Regions from separate parts of the Homo sapiens genome. Here region 2 is linked to region 1. The links come from fine-mapping of genetic effects on gene expression. Tissue or cell type: whole blood. Region 1 holds a variant in brackets; the other region holds the start of a gene. All regions are shown on one strand. Distances are from middle to middle.

Evidence for each region. PIP is the estimated chance that this variant, and not a neighbour inherited with it, causes the effect.
Region 2: PCSK1N starts here. The variant in region 1 is the best candidate, but not a certain one, in a credible set for the expression of PCSK1N in whole blood (TOPMed, PIP 0.85).

What each region holds. Positions count from the first base shown.
Region 1 is chrX:49,045,574-49,048,480 of GRCh38, forward strand. No RefSeq gene overlaps it. Among named protein-coding and RNA genes, the nearest start is that of TFE3, 3.7 kb to the left of the region's middle. RefSeq lists a cis regulatory region at 1,584-2,163 and a silencer at 1,764-1,957. The variant G/A (reference allele first, on the strand shown) is at 1,289.
Region 2 is chrX:48,834,431-48,837,337 of GRCh38, forward strand. It overlaps PCSK1N (proprotein convertase subtilisin/kexin type 1 inhibitor), which reads right to left and starts at 1,180. Exons shown (of 3, transcript NM_013271.5): 1 at 989-1,180. The coding sequence starts at 1,102.

The sequences.
Region 1 (2,907 bases):
TGCGCCTGTAATCCCAGCTACTAGGGAGGCTGAGGCACAAGAATCGCTTGAACCCGGGAGGTGGAGGTTGCAGTGAGCCAAGATCGTGCCACTGCACTCCAGCTTGGGAGACAGAGCTAGACTCCGTCTCAAAAAAAACAAAAACAAACATGTAAGAATGGCTAATTTTACAAAAGAAGAAAGAGGAGGGTCTGGCGGGGTGGTTCCCACCTGTAATCCCAACACTTTGGGAGGCCAAGGTGGGAGAATTGCTTGAGCCCGGGAGTTTGAGACTAGTCTGGGAAACATAGGGAGACCCCGTCTGTACAAAAAAACTTTTAAAAAATTAGGCCGGGCATGGTGGCTCACGCCTGTAATCCCAGCACTTTGGGAGGCTGAGGCGGGAGGATCACAAAGTCAAGGGATTGAGGCCATCCTGGCCAACATGGTGAAACCCCGTCTCTACTAAAAATACAAAAATTAGCTGGGCATGGTGGCACGCGCCTGGCCTGTAGTCCCAGCTACTTGGGAGGCCGAGGCAGGAGAATCTCTTGAACCCAGGAGGCGGAGGTTGCAGTGAGCCGAGATTGCACCACTGCACTCCAGCCTGGGGACAAAGTGAGACTCTGTCTCAGAAAAAAAGAAAAAAAAAGAAAAGAAAAGAAAAGAAAAATTAGCCAGGTATGGTGGTGCACACCTGTGGTCCCAACTACTTGGGAGGCTGAGGCAGGAGGATCGCTTGAGCCTGGAAAGTTTGAAGTTGCAGTGAGCCGTGTTTGTACCACTACCCTCCAGCCTGGACGACAGAATGAGACTCTGTATCAATTAATCAATAAATAAAACTACATACTGTCTGATGAAAGATGCTACAAAGTTAAAAGACTTACAACAGACTGGCAACAAATATTTATAGCAGTAGAGCCACAGAGTAATTATCTTGTCACACATCCCAATCCTACAAACACCAGCTTCACACACGCATCTCAAATGTCTCCATGACAAGTGATATCCCATGACACCCTGCATGATATGCCTACCCTGCATCTTTCTGGGTTTCTCTCTCTCTTTTCTTTTTCTTTTTTTTTTGAGACAGAGTCTCGCTCTTGCCCAGGCTGGAGTGCAGTGGCACGATCTCGGCTCACTGCAAGCTCCGCCTCCCGGGTTCACGCCATTCTCCTGCCTCAGCCTCCCCAGTAGCTGGGACTACAGGCACCCGCTACTATGCCCGGCTAATTTTTTTGTATGTTTAGTAGAGACGGGGTTTCACCATGTTAGCCAGGATGGTCTCGATCTCCTGACCTCGTGATCC[G/A]CCTGCCTCGGCCTCCCAAAGTGCTGGGATTACAGGCGTGAGCCACTGCACCCGGACTTCTTTTTTCTTTTTCTCTCTCTCTTTTTTTTTTTTTTTTGAGATGGAATCTCGCTCTGTCACCCAGGCTGAGGTGCAGTGGCACTATCTCGGCTCACTGCAGCCTCTGCCTCCTGGGTTCAGGCGATTCTCCTGCCTCAGCCTCCCAAGTAACTGGGATTACAGGTGCCCGCCACCGCGGCCAGCTAATTTTTTTTGTATTTTTAGTAGAGACAGGGTTTCCCCATGTTGGCCAGGCTGGTTTCAAACTCCTGACCTCAAGTGATCCGCCCGCCTCGGCCTCCCATAGCGCTGGGATTAAAGGCATGAGCCACATGCCCGGCCCTAGTTTCTATCAATATCTCATTCTCAACTTTCTCAATACTTGCACCCCTGCCATATAGTTGGAGTTCCTTTCTTTCTTTCTTTCTTTTTTTTTGGAGACAGGGTTTCGCTCTGTCATCCAGGCTGGAGTGCAGTGGTGCGATCTCGGCTCACTGCAACCTTATCTGGGGTTTCACTGCAAGACAACTTCAAGGTGCTGTGAAGGGGACATGTGGAGCGAAGTGGGAGGGCAGCTGGATGGTGAAGTTGGGGGTATTTAGGGATAGATATGAGTGGTGATTGAAGGTGGCTTGGGGGTGAGTTTGGGTTCTACAACAGGACAGTTTGCAGGCAATTGAAGGATCATTTGAAGGTCTTTGGGAGGAATGGGGCTTCAATAAGACAGTTTAAGAATGCAGGTGGGAGCTATTGGGAGGGTGGATTGGGAATACGGTTAATGGGTGGAGGATGGTTTGGGGTACAGTTGGAGGGAATATAGGAAGATGGGTTTTTAGAGATAGAGTTCGGCCTTCTGTAAGGTGGTTTAAGGAACAGATGTTAACTGTCATAAGATGTTGTGGTAGGCTGAATAATCCCCTCCACCCCTGCCAATATATTTATGTCCTATGTCCTAATCCCTGGAATTTTTTTTTAATTAATTAATTTTTTTTAGACAAAGTCTCACTCTGTCACCCAGGCTGGAGTGCAGTGGTGTGATCTTGGTTCACTGCAACCTCCGGCTCCTGGGTTCAAGCCATTCTCCTCCCTCAGACTCTCGAGTAGCTGGGACTACAGGCAGGCACCCGCCACCACGCCCGGCTAATTTTTTGTATTTTTAGGAGAGACGGGGTTTCACCGTGTTAGCCAGGATGGTCTTGATCTCCTGACCTCGTGATCTGCCCGCCTCGGCCTCCCAAAGTGCTGGTATTACAGGTGTGAGCCACCGCATCCGGCCAAGGAACTCTTTATTTTTAAAGAGTCTTGCTCTGTCACCCAGGCTGGAGTGCAGTGGTGTGATCTCAGCTCACTGCAACTTCGTCTTCCTGGTTCAAGCGAATCTCTTGCCTCAGCCTCCCAAGTAGCTGGGATTACAGGCATGCTGCACCATGCCCCATTAATTTTTGTATTTTTAGTAGTGACAGAGTTTCACCATGTTGGCCAGGCTAGCCTTGAACTCCTGACCTCAAGCAATCTGCCTGCCTCCGCCTCCCAAAGTGCTGGGATTACAGGCATGAGGCACGGCGCCTGCCCCCTCACCC
Region 2 (2,907 bases), 210 kb before region 1:
CAGCCTCACACACACTCATGAGGACTGACAGGCCTGGAGATGTCACATATACAGCCCAACACTGCCACAGCCACATGCAAGGACCTGCACACGTTCACATCCGCAGCTGCTCCTGCAGTTACAATCGCCAAGCCACCCAGGTGCAAGGACATGCACCATCCTTAAAGACACAATGCAGCAGAGAGACATCATGGCTCCTCTCCTCAGGATGACACAGCTCCACAAAGAAACGGAGAGAAACAGTCTCAGGAACACGCAAACGAAATCCCAGGCACTTGGTCCAACAGAACCACTATGGAATGTGCACACGGAGATGCGAAGACCATTCCCTCTCAAACACAAACGAAATCACACACACACACACACACACACACACACACACACACACACAGAGAGAGAGAGACAGAGAGAGAGAGAGAGAGACACGCCCATAGGCCAAGCCAACACACATAATAAGGATTCACAAATATCCACACGGTGTCACTGAGAAAACAATCGGACGCACAAAAGAATCGCGCACAGAAGTATCCCGGTATCACACACACTACACACCCAGACGCACCACGGCACCTTTCTAGGACACTTGGAAGCGCTCAAACCAAAGAACACACACTTTCAAGGACACGACACCTCCACACCGCTCTCCTCACATCACACGCACACACACTGATGCGCGCGCGCCCTTTCTTAAAGCGCCTTAGTGCCGTGGACAGCGTCACAGGCACCGGGCACGGAGAGGTGGGCAGGGCACGGTTACCGGCGGCGCCCCGGACAACGCCACCCGCACAGGCAGAGACCAAGTCAGGTCTCAGGTGTGCCGGCGTGGCCTGGGCGCGGACCGGCGGCCGGAGCCCGGGCCACCCTCGTCGATCTCTCCGCACGTCCCGGGAGCCGGCTCGGGCGGGGGTGAGGCGGCGCAGCCCCAACCCCAACCCTCGCCGGTGGCATCCTCCCCCAACCCCCACCCCTCGCCGGACTGGGGTCGCACCTTTACCGGCCGCGCGCAGAGCGCGGGGGGCGGCCGAAACAGGCCGAGCAGCAGCAGCACCAAAAGGCCGACGCCCCCGGCCCGCGGCCCCCAGAGCAGCGGCGACCCCGCCATGCTGCCCCAGCGAGCCGGGCTCCGGACGGGCGGACTGGCTGGCAAGTGCGCAGTGCCGGGGCGAGCTGGCGAGGCTGCGGCGCTCTGCGGCTGCGCACGCCCGGAACCAGGCCCCCCCCCCCCCGCCCCCACCCCACCCACCCGACCGACGCAGGCGCAGCCTGGGGAGCTGGCAGCCCCACCAGACCTCCCGTCGCCATGGAGATGCCCAAAGGGCAAGGTGGAGAGCTGGCGGTTGCCATGGCAGTCGGAGGGCAGTTGCTGGGGCAACCGACCTTACTGTTACCTTAGTAGACAGGAAAACAGGCAAGAAAAATTGACTCAGTGGAGTGGAATGGGGGTCTGGTCCTCATCTCTCTTCCTGGGGGAGGAGATGGACTTTAGTTTGTTCATTAGATAAATAGTTAATGGATCACCCGCAGTGGGCCCGGCCCGCGCCAGGGAGATGGGTTCAATCTAGGTGATGTGACCATGGACAGCTCAGTTGGCCATTCTAAGGCTCAGGCTCTCAGCGGCGTAAAGGGGTTACTACTGACAGCCTCCCTCAAAGTGACCTTGGAGGTTTAGAATGACATTCAGTAGGAGCTCCATAAATGCTCCTTTCCATCCTCTCCTTGTCTCTTTGTGTTTTTTTTTTTCTGACAGTGTCTCGCTGTGTCCTCCAGGCTGGAGGACAGTGGCCGGATCTCAGCTCACTGCAATCTCCACCTCCAGGGTTCAACCAATTCTCATGCCTCAGCCTGCCAAGTAGCTGGGACTACAGGTGCCCACCACCACGCCTGGCTAATTTTTGTATTTTTGTAGAGATGGGGTTTCGTCATGTTGCCAGGTTGGTCTCCAACTTCTGAGCTCAAGCAATCGGCCCTCCTCGGCCTCCCAAAGTGCTGGGATTACAGGCGTTGAGCCACCATGCCTGGCCCCAGCCCAATACTTTCATCTCTCCATGGCTCTCTGTGTTTATCTTTCTGCCCTTATGTGCCCACAGCTCTCTCTGTGTCTTCCTCTCCCCATATGTCTCTCCTTGTCTATGACTTTCTCTCCTTTCATCTCTCCAACCGCTGTCTTGTCTCTGTCTTTATTTTACTGTCTATATCTACTTGTTTTCCATAGATAGATATATACATAGATACATATATGCATAGACTTTACCCATATATTGTTCCAGAAATAAGTTCAAGCCACTAAAATGACATATCAAAGGAAACAAGATCTTGAAAAAATGTATGTGTATCCATAGGGGGAAAAATGTTGGGGAGGAAATGTCATCAATGGTTATCTCTGGGGAGGTAACTAATGGTTTGTTACTTTCTCCTTTATACTTTTCTGTTGTCTGAAAAAAAAAAATTACAATAGGCCAGGCGCGGTGGCTCATGCTCGTAATCCCAGCACTTTGGGAGGCCGAAGTGGGTGTATCACCTGAGGTCAGGAGTTTGAGACCAGCCTGGCCAACATGGTGAAACCCCATCTCTACTGAAAATACAAAAATTAGCCAGGCATGGTGACACGCGCCTGTAATCTCAGCTACTCAGGAGGCTGAGGAGGAGGAGAACTGCTTGAACCTGAGAGGCAGAGGTTGCAGTGAGCTGAGATGGTGCCACTGCATTCCAGCCTGGGCGACAGAGCAAGACTCCGTCTCAAAAACAAAAAAAGATCATCTGAATAAATGAAGACACAATACATGTTCCTGGATGAGGCAATTTCATTTTATAAAGATGTCAAGTCTATCCAAACTAATATATAATTTCTATGTAATTTCAATTTAAACCCCAGCTGAATATTTTAAAGAAAATCAATTAAATGTACTT